Linked DNA regions of Homo sapiens: region 2 is linked to region 1. The links come from fine-mapping of genetic effects on gene expression. A gene starts in region 1. The other region holds a variant in brackets. All regions are shown on one strand. Distances are between the middles of the regions.

The links.
Region 2: its variant is fine-mapped to the expression of INTS11 in tibial artery (GTEx, PIP above 0.99). The same link has a PIP of 0.9 or more in sigmoid colon.

The regions. Positions count from the first base shown.
Region 1 is chr1:1,320,268-1,335,471 of GRCh38, reverse strand. INTS11 (integrator complex subunit 11) reads left to right here and starts at 10,812. Exons shown (of 17, transcript NM_017871.6): 1 at 10,812-10,891; 2 at 14,379-14,476; 3 at 14,943-15,016. The coding sequence starts at 10,864. CPTP (ceramide-1-phosphate transfer protein) reads right to left here and starts at 10,670. Exons shown (of 3, transcript NM_001029885.2): 1 at 10,370-10,670; 2 at 8,440-8,636; 3 at 6,576-8,231. The coding sequence starts at 8,561. The coding sequence ends at 7,709. TAS1R3 (taste 1 receptor member 3) reads right to left here and starts at 4,192. Exons shown (of 6, transcript NM_152228.3): 1 at 3,936-4,192; 2 at 3,534-3,834; 3 at 2,666-3,448; 4 at 2,348-2,551; 5 at 2,093-2,213; 6 at 158-1,966. The coding sequence starts at 4,126. The coding sequence ends at 1,008. It overlaps DVL1 (dishevelled segment polarity protein 1), which reads left to right. Exons shown (of 15, transcript NM_001330311.2): 15 at 1-194. RefSeq lists silencers at 10,214-10,713, 10,894-11,023 and enhancers at 11,842-12,351, 13,115-13,623.
Region 2 is chr1:1,388,342-1,403,626 of GRCh38, reverse strand. It overlaps CCNL2 (cyclin L2), which reads left to right and starts at 4,292. Exons shown (of 11, transcript NM_030937.6): 1 at 4,292-4,608; 2 at 4,956-5,030; 3 at 5,285-5,394; 4 at 8,113-8,233; 5 at 10,167-10,231; 6 at 12,762-12,861; 7 at 13,064-13,168; 8 at 13,256-13,397. The coding sequence starts at 4,321. It overlaps MRPL20 (mitochondrial ribosomal protein L20), which reads left to right. Exons shown (of 4, transcript NM_017971.4): 4 at 1,371-1,718. The coding sequence ends at 1,544. MRPL20-AS1 (MRPL20 antisense RNA 1) reads right to left here and starts at 4,097. Exons shown (of 3, transcript NR_015434.1): 1 at 3,938-4,097; 2 at 3,324-3,469; 3 at 1,581-3,022. RefSeq lists enhancers at 2,811-3,354, 10,165-10,665 and silencers at 3,740-3,799, 4,090-4,329, 4,400-4,579. The variant C/G (reference allele first, on the strand shown) is at 4,532.

The sequences.
Region 1 (15,204 bases):
GCAGTCAGGTGGCCCGTCCTTGGTGAGTGCACACACTGCGCGCACACATCGCGGCCTTCCTGGCTTCTCTGGCCCCCACGTGTCTGTGCTGTAGATACTGTATCAAAGTCCCAGCGTTTAGATGGTTAACATAGAGCTGCTTCTGTGTAAATGCTGCTTATTTTAAACACTAAAAAGCGTTTAATTTTATGGGACAGATGTGTGGCCTGTGCCCCTTCTCTCCGGCTGGGCTGCCTTGGAATGAGGCACAGGGAGCTGGTCCAGCCTCCCCTAGGCCCTGCTGGGAGCTGACCCTGGGACTCTGACCGGAGACCCTGTGTGGGCCTGGCGGCGTGCTGGCGTCAGATCCTGGTGGGCAGTTTTCTGTCCATGGTGCTGGCTCCGGGGTCCTGGTGGTCGGTGCTGGCCGTGGTGCTGGACCCCGCCCCCACCCCACCTGGGCTCTGTCCCTGGTACTGGTGACAGTCATGATGCTGTCTACCCACTGGGCAAAGGGCAGAGTAGGAAGCTGGGTGCCACCCCTACCTCGGCGGGCTCTGCCCTGGGCATATGCCTGTGTGCCCCCACCTGGCCTCCCACTGCTGTGGTGCCTGGCAGGGTGCAGGATGGGGGCCCTGGTGGGACATGGTCAGGTCGGCAGGGCCTGATTTGGGCTTCCAGCCATCTGGCCGGGGCCTCCCTGCGTCCTTTTCCTGAGCTCACGGTGTGGGTTGCGGGTACCCTGGGAGCCCTCCGGGCCTCTTTCCAGAACAGTGGGTCTGGGTTACCTGGGCAGGCCTGGTCTGGGCACAGAGGGACAGGGACACAGCTTGGCTCTGGGGCCCAGATGGTCACAGGGGTGTCCACGTGCTCCAGGCCTAGGGCTCACTGTGGGGTCAGGGTCAGGAGACAACCTGGGGTCAGAACCTAGAGCGGGAGGGTCTCTGTAGCGAGACACGGGTCATTGCTGGCTTGGGGGGGATCGCAGCTAAGTCTGGGTTCACCGGGGCTGAGATCACAGGGTTGGGTCACTCATGTTTCCCCTGATTTCCTGTGTTCCCGTCATTCTGGCCTTGGGCATCCCCAGGGCCCCCTCCCAGGAAGAACTCGGGGGTGTTGAGCCCTGGCTGCCGCATGAGCAGGTAACACCTGGGCAGGTGGAAGGCAGCCAGGATGCCCAGGACACAGAGCAGGAGGGCGCCCATCTGCACGGCGGGCCTGAGGACCACCTGCACATTGGCCAGGAGGGGCACAAAGGAGACCCAGGTGATGAAGTAGGCCAGCATGGCAAAGGTGAGGCCACGGGCACGGTTGTAGCAGCCCGGCTGGCTCCGCACCAGGAAAGTGCCCAGGAAGCAGAGAAAGGCCAGCGTGGCATTGGTGGCGTGCGCTAGGCCGAAGCTGACCCAGGAGCGTGTGCGGCAGTGCACCAGCGCCTCCGTGGGCAGCATGTGCCAGTCCGTCACCACCTCCGGCGGGAAGGCCACCAGGTACCAGGTGCACAGTGCGACCTCCACCAGCATGGCCAGCAGCACCACCAGCCAGGCCCAGGGCCCCCGCAGGCAGCCACTCAGCCGGTCTGCCCAGCTCAGAGGCAGTTCTGACTCCACGAAGATCTCGGCCGCCTGCAGGAAGAGTGTGCTCAGGCAGCCCGTGAGCGGGAGGTGGGACAAGGGCTGCTGGGCCAGGCATCGGGCAGGGCTGGGCTGGCCAGGGAACAGGAGGACGCTGAGGCAGACCAGGCCCAGGCACACCAGGCCAAAGCAGGCCAGGGGCCCCCCCGAGGCCTGAACCAGTGGGCTGTCCCGATGGTGAACGAACAGCCCCAAAGCAGCCAGCACAAGGCCCAGCGCCAGGCTCAGCAGCAGGAGCAGCAGCAGCACAGCCGGCTCGCCCCATGCCAGGAACCGAGACCTGCGGCGGAAGCAGCGTGTGCTTCGCTCCGGGGACCACTCATCCTGGCCACAAAAGGTGCAGGCGATGTCGTCTGTGAGAGAGGAGAAGGGCGCTGGGTGTTCGTCTTGTACCCTGTGGGCTCTGGTCTCAGAGTCAGGACTTGGCAGGACCCTCCCCTGCTGCGTTCCCACCCCCGCCTGCCGGGAAGGCGGCTCACCTGGGTTTTGCCGGTAGCTGCCCGCCTCGCAGTCCACACAGTCGTAGCAGCAGGAGTGGAACCCCTTGACCCGGCGCACCTGGCCCTCCTGGCACTGCCGCGAGCACCGGGACACGGGCTTCTGCGCACAGGCCTGGGGTCTGGCTCTGCTCGGCTGGGCATGCCCACGGGAGACTGGAACGGCCCCCACCCCCAGGCTGCGCCCTGCCGCGGGGGCTACCACGGGCACGCCTGGCACACCCACCCTCACCTCACCTGGTTGTCAGACGTGTGCCAGCGGATCTTCAGGCGCTCTGTCCTGAGGCTGCCGTTGAACCTGCCCACGTCGTGGAGCCTGGGCACTGAGCCCTGCCACACCCACAGCTTCAGGTCGTACTCCATGTCCACGTTTCCGCTGCTGTCGAACCGCAGCGGCAGCCCGCCCACGTGGAAGGTCAGGTTGTACATGTTCTCCAGGAGCTGCGGGCGGGGGACGGGGCTGAGCCGCCAGCCACCTCCAGCTCAGGCGTGGTGGCCGTGCCTGGTGGCCTGGGCACATGCAGAGGACAGCACACCCCCATCTCCCGGGCTCACCTGCCAGGGCTTCACGGGGTCCTGCGCGGGGCAGCCTGAGGCGTTGCACTGAAGAGTGTTGTGCAGGGCCTGGGCCACGCTATACACAGCTGCGTAGACAGAGAACGTCTGGTGGTGATTTAGCCCTGCGCTCACGTTCTGCAGCGTGATGCAGTCACACTGCGGGCAGCGCTGGCCCACCACGTCCTCCTCCAGACCCTGCTCCCTCTCGCCCAGGGCAGAGCAGAAGGCCGGGTCGGTGGCCAGGGCCAGGTGCGTCTTCACGTACTGGGGGAACTCGTGCAGCTGGGCACCCCTCTGGAGGAAGCCAAGCACCGTGCCCATCTGGGCCATGCCGGGCAGCCCCATGACCAGGTCAGAGGTCAGCCAGGCCTCGCTGGCCACCCACACCTTGGGCGAGAGCCTGCTGCTGATGCTGTAGTTGAAGAGGGCGTGGGCGGCGTGCACGGAGGCGAACAGCAGCACCACCTGCACGCTGCTCTGGTTCACCTGGTGCAGGACGTCCTGCACCTTCCCCAGCCGCGAGTCATCGGCACGGGGCAGCGGCACCAGGCCCTCGTGCGCGATGCAGATGCCGCGTGCCGCGGCCAGGGCCGAGAAGATGCTCAGGCCCTGCCGGCCGTACTCGTCGTCGCTGCCCAGGGCGGCCACCCAGTTCCAGCCGAACTCCTGCAGCAGCTCCGCGGCGGCCGTCAGCTGCACACGGTCGCTGGGCACGGTGCGGAAGAAGGAGGGGAAGGTCTCCCGGGCGCTCAGCAGCTCCATGCTAGCACCGTAGCTGACCTGCAAGGGCCAAGAGGCATCTCCTGACACAGGGGCTCCCACGGGCAGGGCTGGGTGGGGGTGGGTGATGGTGGGGGGCGCCCACCTGGGGCATGAGGAAGAAGCTGAAGAACTTGCCGGTGACCATGGCGAGCTCTGACGAGTGGGGCCCGATGACAGCCAGCACACGGGGCTGGTACTGCGTGTAGTTGCAGTAGGCGGCGATGTCGCGGCTGCCTGCCTTGGCCAGGAACATGAGGCTGGGCTTCATGGCCACCACAGGCTCCGAGCACGTATCAAAGAGGTCGTAGCCCAGGCGCAGCCCGGGCAGCAGATCCGACTTGTTGTTGATCTCCTCCACGGCCATTTTCATGGCCAGTGCCCAGAGCAGGCCGTTTGAGGAGAACCTGGGGCCACACAGAACCGCAGATGGCCACCTCGGCCCCAGCTCAGGAGCACCCCAGACCTGGTCACCCTGACCCCGACCCAGGCCGTCCCACCTCTGTACCTGGTGCACACAGGGCTGCTGGGCCGTGTCCGGCTGCGGAGGCCAGCCTCCTCGGCCTCGCCCAGGGGGAACAGCCCCCCCAGCACGTAGTCCCCCTTCATCCTAAGTTGCTGTGACAGGCACAATGGGGCCCCCGTCCCAGGGTGCAGGAGAGCCCAGAGGCTGAGGCCCAGGACAGCAGGGCCCAGCATGGCAGAGGCAACTTCCAACAGGCACGGCAGGTGGCTGCCCCGACTGGGGCCTCACATGGAGTGAGCCCGGGGCGGGGAGCGGGCAGAGGATTTGTTTAGCAAAACCCTTGCCATCCTCACTTGCCACACCCTGGGGCCCCAGTGGTGTCCTCGCTTCCTGGGCCTGAAAGTTTGTGCGCGTCAGACTCTGCCTGAGGCCACTGCCAGGCTCTATGGCCAGCGTTGACCGGCAGGCAGGCTCTGCTCAGTTGCTGGCCGTGGCCTTGTTCCCTGCCTGTGGCTGAGCCCCTTGCCACCCCCCGATTCCTGGAGTTGCCCAGCAGGCTGTGGAGAGGAGAGGGGGCAAAGGGGCCTCCAGGGCTCTGAGGTCTCAGCTGCGTGGGAGGGATGCAGAGACACCCAGCCCTGGGGCTTTTCATAAGCACAGAAATGCCTCCTACCCAGCCCCGGGAGCTTCTGGCTCCCACTCAAGGCTGTGCTGGCCGGAGCCGGGGGCAGCAGGGATGGGCCCCCTAGGCCTGCAGACCAGTCAGGCCAGTGGGCAGCCGGCCAGCCAGGCCTCCACCCTGCAGCTGGGGAGGGCCCTGGGGTGGTGGTGCTGCCCTCCCAGTCTGCTTGGGAGCAGAGTTCCTTGAGGGTCTCAGCCCTTCTGCCAGAGTCTGACGCCTGGAAGCTGTAGGAACCGCATGGCCAGCTGTACTCACACTGCTGACCCCCGTCTGGGCCACTCCTGCGTGGCAGGCACACAGGTGGCTCCTGCTGGGGGTAGAGTTTGTTTGCCAGGGGGGCACGCAAACAAGGGAGGAAGGGCCACAGGCAAATGAGCGGCAGCTGGAGCAGCACCAGGTGTGCAGGGCCGGGACTCCTCTGCCTCTGTGTTGCTTTGGGGGTGCCCTCGGGGACACAGCAGACTCCAGGCGCAGGCCCTCCCAGGGGAACTGGGGGGCACTCAGCTTCAGCTAGGGCCTGGCAGACCTAGCAGATACCAGGAGGTGTGCCCTGGCTGGTGCTTCTTCCCCATGGTGTTGTGAGGAGGACCTGTGAGGGACACACACTACCACCGCACATGCATATGGCACATGCTGAGCACACGTGAATATGGCGCACATGCGAACCTGGCACACGAGCACAGGAATGCGGCACACACACAAACGGCACATGCGCATGGTACACGCGAATGGCACATGCACGGCACACGTGCATGGGACACGCACGGCACACGCAAGGAACACATGCATGGCATGCAAACGGCACACATGCATGCCACACGTGCACAGCATACATGCAAATGGCACACGTGTACGGTGCACACGAATGGCACATGCGCATGGTACACACAAATGGCACACGCACGGCAAGTGCATGGCACACGCGCATGGCACACACAAAACGGCACATGCAAATGGCACACACACGGCACACACAATACACACGGAAACGGCACATACACAAATGCCACACATGCATGGCACGCAAGCAAACGACGTGTGGCACACGCGCATCGCACGCAAATGGCACGTGCATGACACAAATGGCACATGCAAACAGCACACACATGGTACACGCAAAGCACATGGCACGCACATGCGCACAGCATACGCTCACAGCACACACGGCATACACAAATGGCACACATGCACGTGGCACACGTGCACGGCCAACACGCAGCACATACGTGCATGGCACATACACGAAAACAGCACACGCTCACGGCCAACACGCATGGCACATGCAACTGGCACCTGCACATTGCACAGATGGCACACATGCACATGGTACATGCAAACAGCACATGCAAACGGCACACGTGCGGCACACGCAAATAGCACACTCGCACTTGGGACACGCAAACGGCACAAGCATGGCACTTGTACAGAAGGCAACACCCGGAGGGAGCCCTGCCCTGGGGCCCACGCAGACCCAGGCAGTTCTCCCGGCCCATACTGCAGTCGGCAGCCTTTGCCGGCACCATATGCAGCTCCCACAGACCCTGAGGTGGGGGTGACATCCAGGAAGACTCTGCTGAATTGCATCCCCTTTCTGTCCAGGCCACTGTTGTGGCTGGGAGTGGCCCCCACCTCCACGCACACATCCCACGCAGGCCTCTCCTCTTTTGCATGGAGAGGCGGATGTCTGCCCTCCCAACCGTCCTCCCAACCCAGCCTCTTGGTTCTGGGTGACTCTGTCTCTCTCTTGTCTCACCTGTACAACAGGCATAGTGATGGGACCTCTCTGGGAGAATGGGCACACAGCAGCCCTGCCTCCAAGGCTGGCCTTTTCTCAGGGTGTTTGTTGAGCCCTGGGGCTAACACAGCCCCCTGAGCCTGGCAGTGGGGCCTCAGCTCCCTTGGAGTTAGGTGCACCCACCTCAGCTGTGTCCCTGGGGTGAGGGCCCTCCCCACCCTCACTGGGTGCCCCTGTGTCCCCCTGCAGGAAATCAGGCACCCAGTGCACCCCAGCGTCTCCCTCCTGGGAGGCTGTGTGATTTATTAACGTTGGAAGACATCACATAGATTGCACTCTGGAAGCTCGCATGTCTGCTGGGCCGTGGGGGCCGTCCCTCTGCCACCCCGAGGTGCTGGGGTCCACTGTGAAGAGCCAGTGGCCAGGCCCCAGGCACTGGATGGTGGCTGGGCTGGTTGTGGCTGTCTGGTAGCCTTTGGCTGGGCCACAGGGTCCAGACCCTCCTGTTCCGTGCCCCACGGGTCTCCTGAGCACTGTGGGGAGGGGGCATCAAGGGGCACGGGGGAGAAGGGACACAGCATTTCACTGGGTGTAGCAGAGTCCCAGCTCCTGGGGGCCTTGGGCTGGGCTGGGCTGTGCAGACCCACGGCCGCTGCGGGAGGCGGCCTGCTGCGTCCCTCGGGGAACTGGTGCCGTGCAGGGGCTACGGAGGAGGCTGTCCCAAGGGCGGGGACTTCCTGGGCCCTTCTGTGAGGAGCCTTGGTCTCAGCTTCCGGCTGTCCTGCCCCCAGTCTGCCTGGCACGCTGAGGGGCAAACAAGGCAGGAGAGGCGGGGAGAGCCCCACAGTGCCCAGACTGCTGTTGAGGGTTTCTGCCAGCCAGGGCATGGAGGGCACTGAGTCCCCTGGGCTCAAGGCTGCCCACCTGGGCAGACACGGGGTCCCAGGCACGGGCCTGAGATGAGGACACATCGGCTGGCAGAAAGGAGAAAGGATGGAGCCTCCACACCCCGGGACCTGTGACTTCACCCTGGTTCGCAGATGCACCCCACAGGCTAGGGGGTGGCGACCTTTCGGGCTCTTGCAGGCCCGGCCCCCACCCCTGCCTGCTCTGCTCTGCACCGCACCCTGGCGAGGCCTGGCTGCGCACGCGTGTAATAGGCCGAGGGGGAGCCGTGGCCGAGGCGTCTTGTTCCGGACCGAGAGGGTGGGCCTCTTCTGGGCTGGTCGCCACCTTCTCTGTCACAGTCTGTGGTTCCTAACCAGCTCAGCTCACAGGGGCGACAGAGGATCTCCTGTTCCCGCAGCGCCCAGAAGGCTCTGCCACGGGACTCACGGCCCTGGCCACCGCAGCCCAGATCTGCAGCAGGAAAGCCGGTGCGGCCCTGGCTTCCCGCCCCTAGGGCAGGTCCAGCAGGGAGTGCTCGGCGTAGAGCTTCTGGGAGACGTTGTAGACACGCTGGATGAAGGGGAGGGCCTCGCCTAGCATCTGCACGGCCTGCTCCGGGGGCCCCACGTTCATGGCCTCCAGGAAGACCTCGCGTGTGGGCAGCGTGCAGAAGGCCACGGTGACGGCGCGGCGCACGACCCAGGGGTGGTAGGCGGCCAGCGAGGCGTTGTAGGAGTCGGCGCAGAGCGCGGAGGTGCGTGCGTCCTCGGGGCTGGTACGCAGGCCCTCCAGGAACAGCTGCAGCCAGTGCAGGGCGCGGTGCAGGCGCAGCACCGTCCGGCAGCCAGACTCCGGGTGGTGGGAGCGGCGCTCCAGGTCCACCAGCCGGTTGCTCAGCTCGTGGGCCACCATGGCCTGCAGGCTGCGGTAGTGCTCGCTCTGCGGGCCGCCCCTGAGGCGCTCCATGATCCGCAGCTTGGAGACCACGTCCTTGGAGATGAATGAGAAGATGGTGCCCAGGCTGTTCAGAAACCTGTGGAAGGGAGCGGGGCTCGAGTCCTCGCCCAGGCCTGGGGCAGCCCGCCTGGGGTGCAGGGGACGCTGCCCAGCCTGCGGGGGCTCACACCCATCTGGAAACGGGCAGCAAAGCTGGTGGGGACAGGCAGTCGGGAGGCAGATGCCACATATGGGACTCGGGCCAGGGGAGCGCCCACCTCAGGAGGCAGCCCTGGCACACGCACCTGACCAGGCCCTTCCAGCTGGCAATGTAGGGGTCCAGCAAGACCTCTTCCTTCTCATCGAGACACTGCTTGAAACTGACCAGGACGACTTTCAGATTGAAACCTGTCTCCGAGTCATCCATTTTTTGATAGGAACGGAAATACAGTAGGGCTGGGGGGCTGTGTCGCTGGGGTCAGCTTGCTCTGTGGCTCATTTTCTGTGTGTGGAGGGGAACAAAATAGCTGCGATCCCATTGCCGCTCACTGAACACTCATGCCCCTCATGGAGCTTCCTCCCAGGAGCTGCCTGGCTCTGCTCCCAGCCAAGCCGCAGGCTCTCAGGCACACCACCCTGACCCACCCTTCATCAGGATTGCGCATTCAGGGACCTTGGCACAGCCCCTCCTGTGGATCAGGCCACTGACTCCGTGTCAGTCCCTGACCCCGAGAGTGGCCCCCTCTGGCTTTATCAGACCACTAGGCCCCGCTGTCTGCAGCAGGTGTCTCTGCTGGTGCTTTCTTGTTTTTGTTTCTCTCTCTAGATGCTGTATCTGCTTTTACCAGCTGGAGAAATACTAAGCCCCTGCCGAGAGCCAAGCACCATCCTAGCCATCTATCTGGGTGCATGGGGAGTGCGAGCAGCCATCTGGGGTGGGGTCAGATGACAACAAAGACAGGAAGTTCTGAAGTCCTAGACAAGAAAACAGACACAGCAGAAAGCAGAGACAGGTGGGGCCGGGGGTGGGGGGATGCTGCCGGGCAGGCTGCCCCATCTTCCTCACTGCTACATCCCCAAAAGCAGAAAAGAGGCTGTAGGGCTGGCACTTGCTGGATGGATGGACACGTGTTTTCACTCCTGTTGCTGAAACTCCATGTCCCACACAGATGGGTTTTACCACTCAGAAGATTGCCACGAGGCTCTTGTACTAGCCCTAGGGAGCCTTCCACGAGTGGCCCAGGCCCTGCTTTGGATTCTGCTGGCATTCACATAGTCACTCCACAGATCCACAGACATCCAGGCACCCATGCTTTGTGTGAGTGTTGCCAAGCACCCTTGCCCTGTCTCCCCGGGTGCCCCACGGGCCCGCACCTGCTCTGGGGAACCTGAGAGTCAGCTGCATTCCACCTCGACCAGGAAGAGGGCCTGGGGGTTCCTAGGCCGGTTGGTGCTGGGAGCCCTGTCCTGGCCTCCCTGGCTGCAGGGACTCCATCGGTGGGGGAGGGGGAAGGGCACCCAGCCGTGGTGAGAGCTCCTGGCCAGGAGCAGGTGGGCAGGTTGCTCAGCACCCTAGGACTGGGCCCTTCATCACTAGGGATCATGGGCTGCAAGCCCTGCCCAGCCCGTGGCCCAGGCTGCTGGAGCACTGGTGCCTGCAGGGTGCTGAAGCCTGGCGTTGCAGGCCCCACAGGTTGGGTTGCATGCTTGGCACCAGGCGGAGGCCCCAGATGTGAGCTCACCGGGCTTCAGGTGTGGGGGATGGCTGCTCCTGGGCCTCAGAAAGATGCAGTCCCATAGACTTCCAGCACGCCCCTCCCCTCCTCGGGCCTTAATTTTGTCCACTGAGAAGATGGTCTCTGAGGCTCTGGGGTTTCCTTCTTGGTCACCAGATATTCTGCGGGCCTTGCCTTCCTGCCCAGATTCGAGCCAGTGGCAAACAGAAGCTGCCAGGAGCTTCTCAGAGCTGTGGCTGGTGGCTCGGTAACAACAGGAAGGGCAGTGGCTGTGCAGGAGGCAGGCAGCTTGCCAGCCCAGGAAGGTGACCCAGGACACCTCCAGGCCTTTCCCAGGGCAGCCCAACGGCCCAAGGTCAGGGCCGGGCGCGAGGGCGGCCTGAGCACAGAGCACGGGGGCTGACAGCAGGCTGGGGGGCCAGCAGGAGACGGGGCCCCACGGCGCCCCAGGCCTTGTGGGTGGGACCAGACCCTGTCGAGCGAGCGCTACGAGTCTCACCTGGGAAGGGGGCTTCAGATGGCACCGGACTGGATGGGCACCGGTTCGGGTCCCTGCTCCACCGAGAGGCCCAGGAAGGGGCGGAGGCCCGGGGTGGTGTTGGGGAGGGGCCGACCTGAGCCACGGCTCCGTCCTGCGCGGGAGCCGGGTCCTCGGCCGCCCGCCCGCTCCGGCCCTCTAGGACGACGTCCCCTCCCGCTCCCGGCCCCTCGGCGACTTCCGGACCGTGCGGGTTGGGTTGGGCAGGTGCGGCCGCCGAGTCCGAGCCGCTCACCTAGGCCGTAGCCGCCGTGCGGGCCCCGTCCCCGCCCACCGCCCCGCCCTCGCCCCGCCCTCGCCCGCCGCCCTGATTGGTTGGATGCTGCCCAATCAGGAGGCCCGGCGCCCCGACCCGCGTTTCCGGCTAGCGCACCGGAAGTTGCAGCGAGGTGGTTGCGCCTGCGCAGTGCATCACCGCAGGCGGGCCTCGCGGGTCCGGGAGCGCGGCGGAGACGATGCCTGAGATCAGAGTCACGCCCTTGGGTGAGTGGGAGCCGCCGGGAGGGCTGTGGGGTGGGCTCCGTATGCGGCTCCGGGCGGGCTGGGCGCCCCGCTCCCTCCCGTTTCTCGTGGAGCCAGGTGCGCGCCGCGGGCGTCCTCCGGTCTCCTCCCCGCGCGGGCCCTGGTGGGAGCCGAGAGGCGGCCTAGTCCCTGCACCCCGGGCCTCCGGCAGTGACGCGAGAACGCGAGCCCCGAGGTTCAGGCGGCCGTGAGGGGACGTCGCAGATGGGGCCGCGGGGCCTTCGCGCTCGCTGTGCGCTTTCGTCGGTGCCTTGACCTCCCCGTGCCGCGCGCTGCCGCCTCCAGCCCTACCAGCCCTTCAGTCCCTTAGCCCCTCAGCCCCGCAGACCCTCAGCCCCCCAGCTCCCCAGCCTCTCAGCCTCCCAGCCCCTCAGCCCCCCAGCCCCTCAGCCCCCCAGCCCCCCAGCCCCTCAGCCCCGCAGACCCTCAGCCCCCCAGCTCCCCAGCCTCTCAGCCTCCCAGCCCCTCAGCCCCTCAGTCCCTCAGCCCCCCAGCCCCCCAGCGCTCCAGTCCCCCAGACCCTCAGCCCAGCAGACCCTCAGTCCCCCAGCCCCTCAGTCCCCCAGCCCCTCAGCCCAGCAGACCCCCAGACCCTCAGCCCCCCAGCCCCTCAGCCCCCCAGTCCCCCAGCCCCCAAGCCCCTTAACCCCGCAAGCCCCTCAGCCCCCCAGCCCCGCTTCTGCCTCCTCACGTCTTGCTTTCTGTCCACCACTCTGTGTGCTCACGCCCGAGTTACAATCAACTCTCACTTTAGCTCTTGTTCTACCTGATTTCTGCAACACTGAAAAAAATAGCAAAAAACGCAAATATGTACTCCTAAAAGTCCTGACAGTCTGGGCACTGTGGCTCACGCCTGCAATCACAGCACTTTGGAAGGCAGAGGTGGGAGGATCGCTTGAGCCCAGGAGTTCAAGACCAACCTAGCCAACATGGCAAGACCCCATCACTCCAAAAAAAAAAAATGCTAAAATTGGCAGGGCGTGGTGGTGTGTGCCTGTGGTTCAAGCTACTTGGGAGGCTGAGTTGTGAGGATTGCTTGAGCCCAGGAGGTTGAGGCTGCAGTGAGCCATGATTGTGCCACTGCACTCCAGCCTGGGTGACAGCAAAACCATGTCTCAAAAGAAAGTCAAAGTCGTAACAGTATAGAACGATGTGAAGAAGGAAAAAATTAGTCAAAATCCAGGGTCTCAGAAACAGCTGGAGGGACATGGTGTTGGTGGCCAGTCATCCTGATGTCCTTAGCGTTTTCCACAGGTGCCTGCCCTGTGCTGTCCTGGAACCTGGTCCTTCCACCGGGCAGGGGGTCGAGGGCACCTTCCAGCACAGACACCAGGACGGGATTCCATGTCCTCCCCCATGGCGTGAGCGCTTCCTCGGAGGGTGCCCCCCGCCCCGGTGTGGACACTGTGCTGTGAACACCCCTGGCCTGTGCACACCCCATGGCATTTTGCAGCTGTTTGCATGGGCCCCACTGCCCTCCCCTGCTCTCTGGGTCCTCCGTGGGGTCCTCCCAGCCTGCCCCTTTCCCATTTGGCCTCTTGGCTGCCTGTTCTGCCCACTCTCTGGACATCTGATCTTTCTGATCTTTCATGTGGCTTCAATTACCCGCAATCTGTACCTGGGTATATTCTCAAGGTCACCTCAGCCAAGGTATCATCAAAGCCGAAGTCCTGTTTCACCGCTTCCCTGCACCAGGGACTGCCTCGGGCTCCGTGTCCGCGCTCACTGGACCACTGCTGTGTCCTTGGGGTCACTCCCACGCCTTGGCCTGTGTGTGGCTACCCCCCCCGCCGCCGGTCCCCCTACCCACCCTGCCCATCCCTCCCCACCGCCGGTCCCCCCACCCACCCTGCCCGTCCCTCCCCCTGCTGGTCCCTTCCCTCCCCCCTGCCTGTCCCTCCCTGCTGCCTGTCCTCCCTCCGCCCGCCCCGCTTCTTCTCCTCCCCTGGACCATCCCTTCCCCACCCCGTCCCTCCCCCTCCCCCACCCTACCCCTCCCCTCCCCTGCTCAAAAGTTGGCTTCTCGGAGCAGTCTCCTGTCATGGTTCTGGAAGTTTTGAGGCTTCCTCATTCTCTCACCTTGCTCTTTTCTGTCATAGTAACCTTCGTCTGGCGTGCTTTGGGTGTCTTGTTTGTCTGCCGTCTGTCTCCTTGCTGACAGGGATATCTCCTCCTGTCTTCTGAGCCCTGTCCCCTCGTGTATCTCCAGGCTCTATTCCCGCACCTTTCCACTTTCCTTCCTGGGATCACTGTGGGTCCTGTCGGGAGGCGGGACTGCCAGTACTTCAGGACTGGGCTTTGGAATTCAGAAAACCAGCCCGGGCCCCATGCCTCGGGGCCGTGTGCCACAAGTGCCTCTGTGGCCTTAGGTCCCTGGGCATGAAGAGGGGCGGCCCTCCCTTCCCACAGGTGCCAGAGGGCCTCTGTGAGCCTGGCGTGGCTTGGGGTAGGAGATGCAGAGGGAGGAGACAGCTGAGACCCTGCTCTCAGAGAGCTCACACCCAGCGGGGGCAGGAACAGGCCTGGAAGAGAACCTGAGATCCCCTCTCTGTGGCAGGCAGCCCCTCGGCTGTGGCCCCGTCATCCTGATGTGTGGTGCTGGCTTTGGACACTTCGAGTGGCTGGCAGGGGGAGGTGGGTGGGATTCAAGGGGAAAACTGTTCACTGCCATCAGACTCCTGCCCAGGCACAGTCTGTGCAGGGGCCGTGACCCTTTCCTCTCGGGCCCCCAGGCCACATGAGGGGGCTGAGTGTGCCTTGGCTGGCCAAGGCCTCTGGCTGGAGCAGCTGGGCAGGGCTGCTTGGCTGTCAGGAGTGTGGGAGGGCTGCAGATGAGGGTCTGTGTTGGGGGCTGCATGGTGTGCAGTGGTGTGAGGCTCGTGTTGCCACGCTGGCCACTGCTGGACCACTGGCACCGTGTTCGCTATGGCATGGCTGAGGCTGTGTGGCGCCCCTCCACAGCCGCACCACCAGAGAACACCCAGTGCCAGCACTTAGTCACTTACTGCCTTGCCTGCCTGGGGAAAGATCCTGGAGAAGGTGGCCTCATTGGTTTGCAGCTCTGCTGGGGGTCCAGCCACAGCCCAGGAGTGACTCTGACCGAGGTGTTGGCCCCACAGACCAGCCGTTGTCTCTGTTGGAGGCTGAGGGCCACAGCACAGTGCCCACTACTTAGCCAGCAGGCCGTGGCCACCTTAAGAGGCCAGGGGAAGCTGGCGGGGGAGGGCGTGTGGGCTGCCAGCCTCCACCCTGGACATGATGGTGTGGGGCATGGTCCCCTGTGTCCCCCTTCCTGTGAGTAGGGGTGGCCCTGCTTCTTGGCCCATGTGTCTGTCCACACAGCAGACTTGGTCCGGTTTCCTCAGTGCACTGGGGTCCTGCAGAGCTTGGGGAGGCAGCACAGGGGGCGGGGGGCGCAGCAGTGACTCATCTGCCCTCCCTCGAGTAGGGGCCGGCCAGGACGTGGGCCGAAGCTGCATCCTGGTCTCCATTGCGGGCAAGAATGTCATGCTGGACTGTGGAATGCACATGGGCTTCAATGACGACGTGAGTCCCTTGGGCAGGAGGCCCAGAGGCTGGGAGAGCCGGCCATCCACAGCTGGACCCTGGGCCTCAGAGCCGGGACAGTGGGGTGGTGGGCAGCAGTGGTTGTGCTTGGATGGCTGCACCCTGTGGGGAGCAGGGATGGGTGGGCCTGGCCGAGGTGAGCCCCTGCATGGTGGGGTCCCCCTGTGCTGGCGCTGAGCCCCAGCCCCGGGGTCCTGTAGGCTGGACTCCGTGAGACCCTGGGCTCAGCTTCCAGCTCACATCTGTCAGTGAGGTTGGGGGTAACCTCGGCCCCTCCGGATGCTGTGAGCAGCCAGGGGTCCTGGTGCCACCTGCGGGATGGGAGTGCCCAGCCTGAGTCTGCACATAGAACCCCCCTTCCTGGGGGCCCCTCCCTGGGGCATGGGTGGCCCCAGATGCTGCCTGGAGACCACTGTGCAACCTGAAACCCCCACATCCTTCCTAGCGACGCTTCCCTGACTTCTCCTACATCACCCAGAACGGCCGCCTAACAGACTTCCTGGACTGTGTGATCATTAGGTGGGTTCCTGTTGGGGGCCTTGAGGGTCCCATGTCTGTGCCTGTGGGGCTTGGGCCACCTTGCTTGGTCTCGGCAGCGTTTGGCAAGGGGCCTGTGCCATCCTTGATCCTCAGGGGGCTTCTAGGCCCCAGGATCTGCTCCCTGCCTGCCTTACTGGTCACACACATGGCCTGGTCTCTGTCTGTTC
Region 2 (15,285 bases), 68 kb before region 1:
TTTACAAAGATCTTCAGGGTAGGCTTAGGAGGTTTGACTTTCCCATTTTACTCAGGGAACTGTAGTTAAGAAAGGAGACATACTTGGCCGGGCACGGTGGCTCACGCCTGTAATCCCAGCACTTTGTGAGGCTGAGGCGGGTGGATCACGAGGTCAGGAGATCGAGACCATCCTGGCTAACATGGTGAAACACCATCTCTACTAAAAATACAAAAAGTAGCCAGGTGCGGTGGCGGGCACCTGTAGTCCCAGCTACTTGTGAGGCTGAGGCAGGAGAATGGCATGAACCTGGGAGGTGGAGCTTGCAATGAGCTGAGATCGCACCACTGCACTCCAGCTTGGGCGACACAGTGAGACTCTGTTTCAAAAAAAAGAAAGAAAGAAAGGAGACAGACTTTGCACAAAGCATACAGGTCACAGGTAGTACAGTTAGGTCACAGGTAGTAGGCCACTTTGTCCTCGGTAGCCGAATTTTGTGTTTTTGTTCCTTTTTTTTTTTGGATACAATCTCACTCTGTTGCTCAGGCTGGAGTGAAGTGGCGCGATCTTGGCTCACTGAAAGCTCCAATTCCCGGGTTCACACCATTCTCCTGCCTCAGCCTCCTGAGTAGCTGAGACTACAGGTGACTACCACCATGCCCAGCTCATTTTTTTGTATTTTTGGTAGAGACAGGGTTTCACCGTGTTAGCCAGGATGGTCTTGATCTCCTGACCTGGTGATCCGCCTGCCTCAGCCTCCCAAAGTGCTCAGATTACAGGCATGAGCCACCGCGCCTGGCCTTGTGGTTTTTTTTCTTGTATTTTTTAGTACAGACAGGGTTTCTCCATGTTGGTCAGACTAGTCTCGAACTTCCGACCTCAGGTGACCTGCCTGCCTTGGCCTCCCAAAGTGCTGGGATTACAGGCGAGACACCGTGCCCTGCCTTGGTAGCTGAATTTAATGCTCAAAGAGACGGCCCCCCTTTTCTACTCCTTAAACTCTGGCATTGTTCACTAGCTTCTGAAATCCTCTGTGGTTCTTGCAGGCACTTCCAGGTTGGCTTAAAGGGTTACCCTAGGCCAGCAGTCAGCTCAGTCAGGGTGGTGACCAAGGACCCTGAACAAGGTGTTTGGTTCCCCGGGCCGACATCAGGACTGGAGTCCAGCCTCCCTGCAGATTCCACAGGTGCTTCCCTCACCCGTGTCCACATTTATCCTTCAGCATCCTGCCTGGAAGTCCTCTGCTGTGCCACCCAGATAGGATTCTCCTAGGCCTTCCCTCCCCCCAGGCGAGTGTGCAGCTGGGTTCTTCCTGAGCCAGCGCCGCAACCACGCGGAGCCGGAGTGTGTGTCTCACACTGACAGCAGGTTCTGATTCATTCTTTTTTCAGTGCCAGGTGGAGCTCAACAGGAAAGTCCTAGCGGATCTGGCCATCTACGAGCCAAAGACTTTCAAATCTTTGGCTGCCTTGGCCAGTAGGAGGCGACACGAAGGATTTGCTGCTGCCTTGGGGGATGGGAAGGAACCTGAAGGCATTTTTTCCAGAGTGGTGCAGTACCACTGAGGACTGTTGCTGTATTGATTAGGAAAAGAGACAGAGTAATTTGCAGTTTGTTTGATTTATACTTTTGTTTATCTACAACCCAATAACAGACATGAGGGATGGCCCTGTCTCTCTGGGACAGAGCCTCACAGATGATGTCCATGTTTTGTGTGAATGAAACTCAAACACTCTTCAGTTTTTAGAGTCATTTTCTGGTATCGAGCGACCACACCGAGGAGCACACCCTGCTTCCAAGGCTGCTGCCTTCTGCACACAGTGGGGGATCCCCACCCACCCTGGCTCCCCTCAAGGGCTGCGTGCACAGTGCCCGCTTTCCAGTTACCTGACCCACCCTGAGTCCCTATTCCATTTTGCTCGGGGCTGACCTCAGACATGCCCTGTGGCTCAGCTCTGCCACTACTCAGAACACCAGCCTCAGCTTCCCTATGTCCCCCAGATTCAGCAGCCCAGCAGGGATTGGGGGAAATGCTCCCACATCAGGTGGGTGGTGGCCTGGTCCCTGCAGACTGGACTGGCTTTTCAGCCATCTCCAGGAAGCAACACCTAGCAGACAACTGTCCCTTAACCCCAAGGGTGATGCACACTTCTCCCCTGGTCTTTCTGCCCCCCGATGCCCCTACATTTACACAGCAGTGCGCAGACCCTTGCCGCAACCTGCTTGTCTTGCTGACCCTGCTGTAGGAGCGCCTAAACTGAGTGCCCGTCTCCCCTCCAAAGGCAGCTGGCTTGAATCCTGTGGGAACGTGCCCTTCACCCTTTGCCAGCAGTTGCTGGGGAGTCTTTCCGGCCCCTTTCTCAGACTCACCACCTACCTCCAACCTGCGCAGAACAATCAGCGTCCTGACCACTTGCTAGAGATGGCTTCAGGCCGACCACTCCATCCTCACTGCAGGCCTTCATTCCTTCTGGCTTCCATCACTGCATGGCCCCCTAAGAGGTCCCCCTCCTGGCCCTTGTCACTGTGCCTCATGACAGCCACTACGCCCTAAGCCTTTGGAGGCCAGGGACAAAGTCTCGTTCACTGTCCTTTCCGCTGCATGAGTGCAGTGTCTGGCCAGGTGCACGGGGCACTCAGTGCCTGTCAGCCCTTGGTAAACAGTCCTGGACAACAGGGTCAAGGACAGAGCCCTGGGCGGCCACATTCGGTGCGTGCTCCTGTGTTGTGGCAAAGCTGCCTTTTCTGCGTTTCATGTCAGTGAAGGAAGACAGGGATGTGGCAGAGCCCTGCGGGTTGCTCCCATCACTCACTCGGTTTGTGCCATAGTCCTCCTGTTCCCAGGCGGTCCCAGGGCCTGCCCCTGATGGGCTGGAGGCACCACCAACCTCCCACTCCTCTGGCAGTCACAGCTCAGGGAATGGGCAAGCAGCACCAATGAGAAACCAGCTGTGTGGTGGGGTTTCCAGAGAAGAGGAAATTCCTTCTTTCCTGGAGAGCGTGCAGCTGTAACTCACAGACGAGACATCCCTGAGCTACCAGCCTGGGGAAAGAGGACATGAGTAAAGCTGTAACCATACCGTGTTACCCATAACAGGCGGTGAGGAGAGTGGGTTTTGGTTGGCACTGTTTGAGCTGCAGTATCAAGTCATGGCAGAGCTAGTGGACAGCTGACCTGGGGGTGGGGGTGAGGAGCAATGGTGGCTTCTGAATTTGAGCCCGTCTGAGCTGGGCAGTTACTGGCAGCTCAGTGTGTGAACCTGCAACCACTCAGGCCTCTGCTGCCCTTCCCTCTTCCTGCCTCACCGTTCCCTGCCCCACGCAGGCTTCCCCACCATCCTCACCCGTGGTCCTGTACTAGTCCTGGCAAAGGTTCCGGTAACTGCAGCAACAGATACCTCCTGCCCCTCCTGCACAGCTGTGGTCGATCGCAGGACAGCCGCAGGTGATGAAAAACCGTGAACCCAGGACGGGCAGGGCGTGAGACCGCCTGCGGGAGGATCAGCGATGTCAAGACGTTACAAACGCACGAACCCCCTCGCCGTCTCCCTGGCGTTTGTGAGGTCCTGTCCAAGCTCCTTCACACGTAGATCACCGGGCCTCGCTCCCCCGACTCCTTCCGTGGGCCTGAACCTTGAGGTACTTAGGCCTCCCCACGCTGGAGGGGCTCTGTAGGGACGTCGAGGCCACGTTTCCAGTCATCCCTCCACCCGTCTCTCCCCAGGGGCTGAGTGTTGAAGGCAAGACTTTGCAGGAGTCTGGCGTTAATACGCATCCCCAAAGTCTGGAGTCGATAAGGACTGAAGACACGACGCCGACGGCGGCCGGGGGACACCGGGCATGCGCGTCTCATCCAGGGGGAGGCCGAGCGGAGCCTCTGACCCTGCCCCGCGCCCAGGGTTCAGCAGTGGGGGTCGTCCCGCCCCAGATCCCACCGAGATGGCCCCCCTTGACCCACAGGCCTTTCGAGACGCGAGCTTCCGCGATCCGGGGTCTCTGTGCGAACGTGGGCATCTTGGAAGAGTCCCAGCCCCGCTCGGGGCGCACAGGCAGGCGCTCTCAGCACGGCACCCGCGCCTCCGCTAGGGACAGACATGCTTCCGGGTCGGCCGGCACCGCGGAGTCCCCTGGGTAACGAGCCCGCCCCACCCGCGCCAGGTTCCGGCGTCGGCGTTAGGCGCGTTGCTGACGGGCAGGTTATGTAGCCAATTGCGGCTAGGCGGCGTCGCGCTGGTCGCGGGCCGAACCAATGGCACGCGACGGGGCGGGGCGGTGGCGGCCGTGGAGCTTCGCGAGGAGCCGCCCTGAGGGAAGAAGCCGAAGGGGAGTCGGCGGCACAAAATGGCGGCGGCGGCGGCGGCGGCTGGTGCTGCAGGGTCGGCAGCTCCCGCGGCAGCGGCCGGCGCCCCGGGATCTGGGGGCGCACCCTCAGGGTCGCAGGGGGTGCTGATCGGGGACAGGCTGTACTCCGGGGTGCTCATCACCTTGGAGAACTGCCTCCTGCCTGACGACAAGCTCCGTTTCACGCCGTCCATGTCGAGCGGCCTCGACA[C/G]CGACACAGAGACCGACCTCCGCGTGGTGGGCTGCGAGCTCATCCAGGCGGCCGGTATCCTGCTCCGCCTGCCGCAGGTGAGGGCGCGGCCGCGAGCCTCCGGCCCAGGTAACCGCTGGGGCGGCAGCCGCCTTTGTTGGCGGCGAGTCGGGCCCGCACCGCCCCCGCCTAGACCCCGACCCCAGCCCCTGCCCCGACCCCAGCCTCGGCGCCATTCCCTAGCCAGCCCATGCCCCTGACCCGGGGCCTCCCCGCCCGCCAGTGCGCTGGATCCCGAGACGGCGGGACGCGAAGAGCCTTTGTGGACGTGGGAAGCGTTTCAGTGTTTGGTTCTGCGTGGGGAGTCCCACGTTACTCGATGACTTTCGGCCGCGAAGGCTTTGAATGGTGCGTTTGAAAATACGGAAACTTTCTTCTACTCTAGGTGGCCATGGCTACCGGGCAGGTGTTGTTCCAGCGGTTCTTTTATACCAAGTCCTTCGTGAAGCACTCCATGGAGGTAAGGCTTCCTCCTGCACTTCATTCCCAGCGAAGTATGTTGAGGGTAAAACGGTTTGTTACTTTGCCCGGTTACTAAGGGAGTGAGTACTTGCCCCCCAGTCTGAGCTCTGTGCCGGAGGGTTCTGTTTCTTGACTTTTTTTTTCCCCTGGGTGCACCTCCCTTTTGGTCTGAATAGCCCTCAAGCCTTTGGCGGCCGTCAGGACGCCGTGGCTGGGGACAAACATGGGCGTGTTGCAATGCTTCCGCTTCAGCATGTGTCAATGGCCTGTGTCCACCTGGCTTCCAAGATAGAAGAGGCCCCAAGACGCATACGGGACGTCATCAATGTGTTTCACCGCCTTCGACAGCTGAGAGACAAAAAGTGAGTCAGTCAGAGCTGTCTAGTCTATCATAGATGCCTATTTTCTTTATTTCTGATTAAGTTACAGTAAGGCTTGTATAACACAATACAGGCCTGAGGCTCTAAACCTGTGGGATATTCATGAGCGCAGTCTCAAGCTCCACCAACAGAGCCTGCTCAGAGGCATCAGTAGATGCGGTTTAGTAAGGGCAGGGGCTCCAGTGAGGACAGTGCGCTGTGGCGGGTCGCGCTGGGGCTGGCTTCCTGCTTTACCCATGTCAGTGCACGGCCCTGCTGCTGCTTCTGTCCCACAAGTTTCTGAGTGCTCTGGAGCAGGGAATCTTAATCTCAGCACTATTGACATTCAGGCTGGATAATCTTTTTTTTCCTCCTGAGACAGGTTTCCTGTTGTCCAGGGCAGAGTGCGGTGGTATGATCATGGCTCACTACAGCCTCAACCTCCTAGGCTCAAGAGTTTCTCCTGCCTCAGCCTCCTGAGTAGCTGGGACTATAGGAGCACGCCAACCATGCCAGCTAATTTTTATTTTTTATTTGGTAAAGATGGGGTCATGCTGTGTTGCCCAGGCTGGTCTCAAATTCCTGGGCTCCAAGGATTTGCTGGCCTTAGCCTCCCAAAGCACTGGGATTACAGATTTCAGCCACCGCATCTGGCTGGGTAATCTTTAGTTGTAGGGGATTCTCCTGTGTGCTGCAGGATTCAGCAACATCCCTGGTCTCGACTCACTGGATGACAGGAGTACCCCACCTTAGATGTGACAGCCAGAAATTCTCTCATACCAGATGTGGGAGCTCACACCTGTCATCTCAGCACTTGGGAGACTGAAAAAGGAGGTTTGCTTGAGGCCAGGAGATTGAGGCTGCAGTGAGCTGTGATGTCACCACTGCACTCCAGCCTGGACAACAGGGTGAGGCCCTGTTTCCAAAAAAAACGAAAGTCTGTTGATGTTGCTTCATGGCCCTGGAATAGTAAAATTTCTCCAGCAGAGAACCGCTGCCTCTGACCTTAGCCCAGGGTTTATGCACCTGAAGTTAATTGAAGTCCTTTAGAAAACACAGCCTCTGGCCGGGCTGGCCTGTAATCCCAGCACGTTGGGAGGCCTAGGCAGGTGGATCACCTAAGGTCAGGAGTTCGAGACCAGCCTAACCAATATGGTGAAACCCTGTCCCTATTAAGAACACAAAAATTGGCCAGGTGCAGTGGCTCACGCCTGTAATCCCAGCACTTTGGGAGGCCGAGGCGGGTGGATCACGAGGTCAGGAGATCGAGACCATCCTGGCTAACACGGTGAAACCCCGTCTACTAAAAATACAAAAAAGTTAGCCAGGCGTGGTGGCGGGTGCCTGTGGTCCCAGCTACTTGGGAGGCTGAGGCAGGAGAATGGCGTGAACCCGGGAGGTGGAGCTTGCAGTGAGCTGAGATCGGGCCACTGCACTCCAGCCTGGGCGACAGAGCAAGACTCCGTCTCAAAAAAAAATAAAAAAAAAATTAGCCGGGTGTGGTTGCGGGTGCCTGTAATCCCAGCTATTCGGGAGGGTGAGGCAGGAGAATCGCTGGAACCGGGGAGTTAGAGGTGCAGTGAGCTGAGATTGTGCCATTGCACTCCAGCCTGGGCAACAAAAGTGAAACTCTGTCTCAAAAAAAAAAAAAAAAAAAAAAAAAACAGCCTTGCCGAGCGCAGTGGCTCACGCCTATAGTCCCAGCACTTTGGGAGGCCAAGGCGGGTGGATCATCTGAGGTCGGGAGTTCGAGACCAGCCTGACCAACATGTAGAAACCCCATCTCTACTACAAATATAAAATTAGCTGGTCGTGGTGGTGCATGCCTGTAATACCAGCTACTTGGGAGGCTGAGGCAGGAGAATTGCTTGAACCTGGGAGGTGGAGGTTATAGTGAGCCAAGAGCGCGCCACTGCACTCCAGCCTGGGCAACAGAGTGAGACTCCATCTCAAAAAAAGAAAAAACATGGCCTCATCGGCCTCCCAAAGTGCTGGGGTTACAGGTGTGAGCCACTGCACCCAGCCCTTTTTTTTTTTTTTTTTTTCTGAGACGGACTCTCACTGTGTCTCACCGTGTCACCCAGGCTGGAGTGCAGTGATGCGATCTCGGCTCACTGAAACCTCCGCCTCCTGGGTTCAAGTGAATCTCCTGCCTCAGCCTCCTGAGTAGCTGGGATTACAAGCACCCGCCACCACGCCCGGCTAATTTTTGCATTTTTTTAGTAGAGACAGGGTTTCACCATGTTGGTCAGACTGGTCTTGAACTCCTGAGCTCAGGCAGTCTGCCTGCCTCGCCTCCCAAAGTGCTGGGATTACAGGCAGAGCCACTGCACCTGGCCCATCTGTATTTAAATAATTGTGCTTTCATTGGTTCTGTGGTTATTGAACTGTGAATATGTACCTTCCTATCGTGAGTCACATAAAGTGCTTTAGCATTTGTGCCACGAGATCCTAAAACTTGCTATGTTCGGTCTATGCTTGTGCACCAGAAGCTGTTGATCTATAAGGAAAAGCAGGGAGGGATCGTTGGGAAGGGATGAGGAGGTTGGCACTGGGCTGTGGGGAGCGGTGTGCAGTTTTGTTCATCAGAGGATGTGGACTTCATAGCGATGTTGTGTTGTGGGGTTTGTGTTAGGTGCTCATAGTTGGAGGTAACGACGGGATCTCAGAAGCCTTGCTCTGCTTGACTGTGGTGCAGACCCTGTGCTCTCTCTCTGGCAGGAAGCCCGTGCCTCTACTACTGGATCAAGATTATGTTAATTTAAAGAACCAAATTATAAAGGCGGAAAGACGAGTTCTCAAAGAGTTGGGTTTCTGCGTCCATGTGAAGCATCCTCATAAGGTGGGTGTGCGGCTCCTGCCCTGCGAGCCCGCCTAGGCCGCTGCTCCTGCCTGGCCGCCTCTCTCCACCTCAGTGCAGTTGAAGGCTCTGAAGAGGACTGAGTGCATCCCTGACTTGGCTTTCCAGTTTCTATTTATAATCTCAAGAATAGTTCCTGACGTATTCGTCTTCTAGTGTCAGCTGTTTATTTTAGTAACACATTTTTAAGTGTTTTGGAAATGGTATTATTTAAGTTTGGGCTTTCAAAAATAGTGGTGAGTTTATAAATGTTGAATTTTAGTTTATGTTTTCCTTTCTCTACAGTTAATTTTTTTTTGTTTTCTTTTTTTTTGAGATGGAGTTTCGCTCTATCGCCAGGCTGGAGTGCAGTGGCATGGTGGCAGTGGCAGTGGAGGCACAACCTCCACCTCCCGGCTTCAAGCCATTCTCCTGCCTCAGCCTCCTGAGTAGCTGGCACTACAGGCACGTGCCACCACGCCGAGCTGATTTTTGTATTTTTAGTAGAGACGGGGTTTCACCATGTTGGCCAGAATGGTCTTCATCTCTTGCCCTCGTGATCCTCCCACCTTGGCCTCCCAAAGTGCTGGGATTACAGGCATAAGCCACTGTGCCTGGCCTTTTTTTTTTTTTTTTTTTTTTTTCTTGAGACGGAGTCTTACTCTGTCATGCAGGCTGGAGTGCAGTGGTGCAATCTTGGCTCACTGCAACCTCTGCCTCCCAGGTTCAAGTGATTCTTGTGCCTCAGCCTCCCAAGTAGCTGGGATTACAGGCATGCGCCACCACACCTGGGTAATTTTTGTATCTTTAGTAGAGATGGGGTTTCGTCATGTTGGCCGGGCTGGTCTCAAACTCCTGATCTCAGGTGATGCACCTGCCTCGGCCTCCCAAAGTTCTGGGATTACAAGTGTGAGCCACTGCACCCAGCCTCAACAGTTAATTTTCTACATTTGCTTTAGTGATAGCTTTACTTTCTCTTATGGAGAAATTAGGGGAATTCTGGCCCCTTTAGTCTGAAATGACTGGCGAGTTTTGCGGCATGTACTGACTGAGGACCATGGCCGTGACACGGTCCCTCACTCCCAGCGTTGTGGGTGCCTTCTGTGTCACATGGAAACAAAGCACTTGTTTTCCCAAAAAATTGTTTCCATCTTTGGTTCCATCTCCTTTTTATTGGTGGGTTTCCTCATCTGCTTGTTCGGCTTTCTGCCATCTGTTCAAATTATCCACAAATTGCCCACCACAGATTGAAGTGCTTTTTTTTTTTTTTTGGAGACGGAATCTCGCTCTGTTGTCCAGGCTGGAGTGCAATGGCGCAACCTCAGCTCATGCAGCCTCCGCCTCCTGGTTTCAAGCGATTCTCCTGCCTCAGCCTCCTGAGTACCTGGGATTACAGGCGTGCACCACCATGCCTGACTAATTTTGTATTTTTAGTAGAGACTGGGTTTCTCCATATTGGTCAGGCTGTTCTCGAACTCCTGACCTCAGGTGATCTGCCCGCCTCAGCCTCCCAAAGTGCTGGGATTATAGGCATGAGCCAGTGTGCCTGGCCTGAAGTGTTCTTCTCTGTTTGCTGAAAGTATGTTCATATTGTGTTTTGGTGAGTTGTTAACTGGGATACAGAGACGTGTAGGACAGGCCAACCTCACTGGTGGAAAGGCATTGAAGACTAGAATGAAACCAGCCCCATGAAGAACGAGGCCTGTGCCGTGGGTTGTGTGGCTGGGCTCACGGGCATGCGTCCTGCCTGGCTGCCAAGGCAGACAGCAGGTGCAATCGCAAAGCTCCCTCCAGCTGAGCCGTCCGCCAGACGTGTGGCCAGGAGCCACTCCTGGGATCTAGCTTGAGGCTCTTGTTTGCTGCATGGACACCCACAAGATCTGAATTCTGGGCTCTTAAGGTTCTTGGTAATAACTGCCTGACCCGTATCTTCCAGATAATCGTTATGTACCTTCAGGTGTTAGAGTGTGAGCGTAACCAACACCTGGTCCAGACCTCATGGTGAGTTGAGCTTCCTTGTTTTATGAGACCAGCAAGGGCAGTGCAGGAATGTGTTGACTTGAGGCACTTGGGCAGTGGGTAGGCAGCCCAGTGACTTGGTTGTGGGCTGGAGTTGTCCGAGTGCCCAGTGCTCCTGCTGTATAAATTCCAATCAGACTCCCAAAATGGGCACTGGCAGTCACGGTAGGTGGCCCGTCCCCTCCCTGCAAGCCTGGACTTCCTGTGTCCCCCACCCTGAAGAGAGCAGTCAGTGGGCTTCCTCTGGGAGCTGTTGACTTGGCGCAGGGGGACCTTTTCCTGGGGAGGGTGGAGGGACAGGCTAGTGCAGACTTGGTCTGTTTCTCCACTGACATTGCATCCCATGGGAGAGGGGCAGAGAAGGTTCTGGGGCCGATTTTAGCAATGCATGTGCTAGAAAGGAACCCTAAAGTGCAATGTAGTATTTGGGGGATTCTGGGGATTCTGGTGAATTTTTTCCCATGGAGTTAAGTCTGTAAGGGTCATATTTTTGCTGACTGAATTGTCTGGTGCTATGACATGTTTAATAGAGAACCTATTTTGACTTTTCTTTTCTGTACTCTTTCAATCAAAGGGTAGCCTCTGAGGGTAAGTGACTAAGACTTCTCCTCTGCTGTCCAAGCGCTTTGGTGCAGGGACAGCGGCATCTTCAGCCAATCCAGTGCAGGCTCTCCACCGAAGGCTGGCTCTAGACTGGTGGTACGCACATAGCATAGCCATGGCCGACTCCTGCTGTGGTTCTCTGACGATTGTGCTTCTTGTTAATCCTCTGTCGTGCTTTGGTAATCGTATTGATTAGAGTTGGTAACTGTCTTGACTTGAATTTTGTCCCTTTAAAACTGCTGTACCTGTATGATAAAGATGCAGTACCTTTCTCTTAAAAAAAAATGCTATGGAAAGCTGTGAGAATTGAAGAGACAAATTGGCTGTGTCAGTGTGGGGTTATGTCATGATTTCTAGAAGCCCTGAAGTTGCTCTTTTGAGCAGCTTTGCATGACACGCTCTGGTAAAAGGTGTGCATCTTTAAATTATTTCATGGATACTTTGAAAAATATTGTATCACTTCAAATACAGCAATAAGTTTATATGTTCTCAAGATTTCATTTGTTTTTAAGAATTTTAAGTTCGTGGATTAATATCACTACTTGAATACTGACAGTTGTTGATTAGACACCGAAAGGTTACTGATTGTTGAATGTATCTGTGTTAGAGCTGTGCACTGGCACGCTTGCATCAGGGGCTGGGGCCACACGGCCGCCACACAGATTCCCCCGTGATGCCTGGAGCTGCTTCCAGAGCCGGGTGTCTCCAAGAGGCACCTGTAGGACTTCCCATTTAGAAATCTCTTGAGTGGGTTTGTATGTTACCTTCTCCAAGGTTTATTTAGGACAGAGATATTGCTGGAAGGTCATGGGTCAGATTCCCTCACAACCCACCTCGTCTGCGGGTGCAGCCCCACTCCAAGGCTCCCCGTTATTGGGGTATGTGAGGAGCAGTAAATATAAAACCAGTTCAACTGTCCTCATGGAATCACCCTTTCTGTTTTTGCAGTATTCATAAAGCTAGTGTAAGGTCTGGTTTTAGTCTATTAAATCTTAGAGATCTAAAGGAAATGCTCAAAATGTAGCCAGGTTTTAAATGCTTTAACTTTTAAAAAATGTAAATTTTTGTATGTTTATAGCTTCTAAATATGAAAGTTAAAGAATGTACTGTGATGAAATGTTCAGTATTATGTTGCTTCTCAGTATCATGTTGCTTCTCAGTATTGTGTTGCTTCTGATTCTATGAATGTTCATTTTAAGACCCCTTGTTGAAATGGGACAGTTGGCAGCGGCTCTGATGAGCCCGAGAAGAGGCCTGCCCTTGGGTGCGGAGTCTCCCTCCGCACGATGCTCCCACGCGTCCAACTTGCACCCAAGGGGCTTTTCCCTCTTCCAAGTGGACTCCTTCAAGGAAGCTGCAGCTCGGTCAGCAGAGAAGGGGCCTGCCGCCAGCGCCCTGGAGGAAGAGGAAGAGGAACCCAAGAGGATGGCTTGTCTCCCAGCAGCCACACCGGCTTTGTGCTCAGCCAGTTCATTTGAGTTTGCATGTTTCTCTGCACTATGGATTTTGAGCATTTAGATTTCTTTAATCAAAAGCGTTTTAGTGACTCCAGTAGACATTTTCTTTCTGAGGCATCGTGCTTTGCATGAGAGCAGGCCAAGGTTGAGGGGAAAAGTAAAGTTAAAGTCGGTTCTCTTTCATAGCAACACGTATTGTCTGACATTCAGCCAGCTTTTTTTTTTTCTAATAATTTCTGTGCCTTTCTGTCCTGTATTTACTGTATTTAGAAAAAGCAGCTAGAATATTTCTCCATTAACTCTTGAGATTCACAGGACTGTCTAGCTCTGAGTCCTAGCAATAGACTCCTTAGAGGAGTAGTACGTTTATCTAGATTTTCTCTAGATAATGCAGGCGGAAGACCTGGGTTCCCGGGTGGGGCATTGCAGTTCTTCCTGTGTTTGGCTTCCAGGAATTACATGAACGACAGCCTTCGCACCGACGTCTTCGTGCGGTTCCAGCCAGAGAGCATCGCCTGTGCCTGCATTTATCTTGCTGCCCGGACGCTGGAGGTCAGTGTGTTGCTACTATGGAGAGATTCTAGTCTGATTTTTTTTTCTCCAGCCTCCAGTAAACTTTACTGTGTTATTCTTCAAATTACTCTAATCTGGGCCAAAGCATTTTCGTGACCAACAGGCTGTTTTTTAATTGTCCTGAGTCTTGCTGGCCGTGAAGTTGAGGAAAGTGTAATGATGATAGTGTTTGTTTTTACAGATCCCTTTGCCCAATCGTCCCCATTGGTTTCTTTTGTTTGGAGCAACTGAAGAAGAAATTCAGGAAATCTGCTTAAAGATCTTGCAGCTTTATGCTCGGAAAAAGGTTCTTCGGCATTTTTTCATGTAACGTATGCGTTTGTGTTTGGCCAGAAACACCTGGTTCTGAACGGACACCTTCTGGCTTTTGCAGGTTGATCTCACACACCTGGAGGGTGAAGTGGAAAAAAGAAAGCACGCTATCGAAGAGGCAAAGGCCCAAGCCCGGGGCCTGTTGCCTGGGGGCACACAGGTGCTGGATGGTACCTCGGGGTTCTCTCCTGCCCCCAAGCTGGGTGAGTCTGTTAGAGTGCAGGAATCCACTCCCCACAAAGGCAAAGACTGGTGACTCTCCCCCGCCTCCATTCTGGGGTATGTGCTCCTTCCAGACATTTTTTTTTTTTTTTTTTTTGAGACAGGGTCTCTGTCACCCAGGCTGGAGTATGGTGGTGTGATCGCAGCTCACTGCAGCTTCCAACTCCTGGATTCAAGTGATCCTCCCACCTCAGCTTTCTGCATAGCTAGGACTACAGGCACATGCCACCATGCTTGGCTAATTCTTTTTGTTTGAGACAGAGTCTTGCTCCAGCCCAGGCTGGAGTGCAGTGGCGCAATTTCCTCTCACTGCAAGCTCCGCCTCCTGAGTTCACACCATTCTCCTGCCTCAGCCTCCTGAGTAGCTGGGACTGCAGGTGGCCGCCACCACGCCTGGCTAATTTTTTGAATTTTTAGTAGAGACGGGGTTTCACCAGGTTAGCCAGGATGGTCTCGATCTCCTGACCTCGTGATCTGCCCACCTCAGCCTCCCAAAGTGCTGGGATTACAGGCGTGAGCCACCGTGCCCAGCTGTGCTTAGCTAATTCTTTATCTTTTTAGTTGAGTCTGGGTCTTGCTATGTTGGCCGGGCTGCTCTTGAATTTCCTGGCCTCAAGTGATTGTCCTGCCTCAGCGTCCCAGAGTGCTAGGAGCATAGGCACCTGGCCTTTCTGTTGATTAGCAGGGAGTATGACAGGTTGTCTGAAATGCTTTTGTTTATCCTGCTGCCCAGGTAGCTTGTCATCTGATGAAGGTGTTATAGTGTGGGGCCATAGATGATACACGTCATCAGACCTAGAGTTCAGTGTGATGCAAAGGGCCTGTCTGCAGTTCTTTTTTTTGAGATGGAGTCTCGCTCTGTCGTCCAGGCTGGAGTGCAGTGGTGCGATCTCAGCTCATTGCAAGCTCCACCTCCCGGGTTCATGCCATTCTCCTGCCTCAGCCTCCTGAGTAGCTGGGACTACAGGTGGCCGCCACCACGCCTGGCTAATTTTTTGTATTTTTAGTAGATATGGTGTTTCACCGTGTTAGCCAGGATGGTCTCAATCTGGCTTCGTGATCCACCCGCCTCGGCCTCCCAAAGTGCTGGGATTACAGGCATGAGCCACTGCACCCGGCCTGCATTTCTTTTTTTGAGACAGAGTTTCTGTCTTGTTACCCAGGCTGGAGTGCAATGGCGCTGTCTCAGCTCACTGTAACCTCTGCCTCCCGGGTTCAAGCGATTCTCCTGCCTCAGCCTCCCAAGTAGCTGGGATTGCAGGTACCCGCCACCACACTGAGCTAATTTTGTATTTTTAGTAGAGATGGGGTTTCTCCATTTTGGTCAGACTGGTCTTGAACTCCTGATCTCAGTTGATCTGCCCGCCTTGGCCTCCCAAAGTGCTGGGATTACAGGTGGGAGCCACTATACCCAGCTTTTTTTTTTTTTTTTTTTTTTCTGAGACGGAGTCTTACTCTGTTGCCCAGCCTGGAGTGCAGTGGCGCTATCTGGGATCACTGCAAGCTCCGCCTACCAGATTCTGGTGATTCTTGTGCCTCAGCCTCCCAAGTAGCTGGGATTGCAGGCGCCCACCACCACGCTCAGGTAATTTGTGTGTGAGTGTGTGTCTATGTATATATATATATAGAGAGAGAGAGAGAGAGACACACACTCACATGTTTTGGGGTTTTTTTGTTTTGTTTTGTTTTTCTTGAGACAGAGTCTCGCTGTGTTGCCAGGTGAGTACTGTGGCGTGATCTCGGCTCACTGTAACCTCCGCCTCCTGGGTCCAAGCGATTCTTCTGCTTCAGCCTCTGGAGTAGCTGGGACTACAGGCGCGTGCCACCAAGCCCAGCTAATTTTTGTAGTTTTAGTAGAGATGGGGTTTC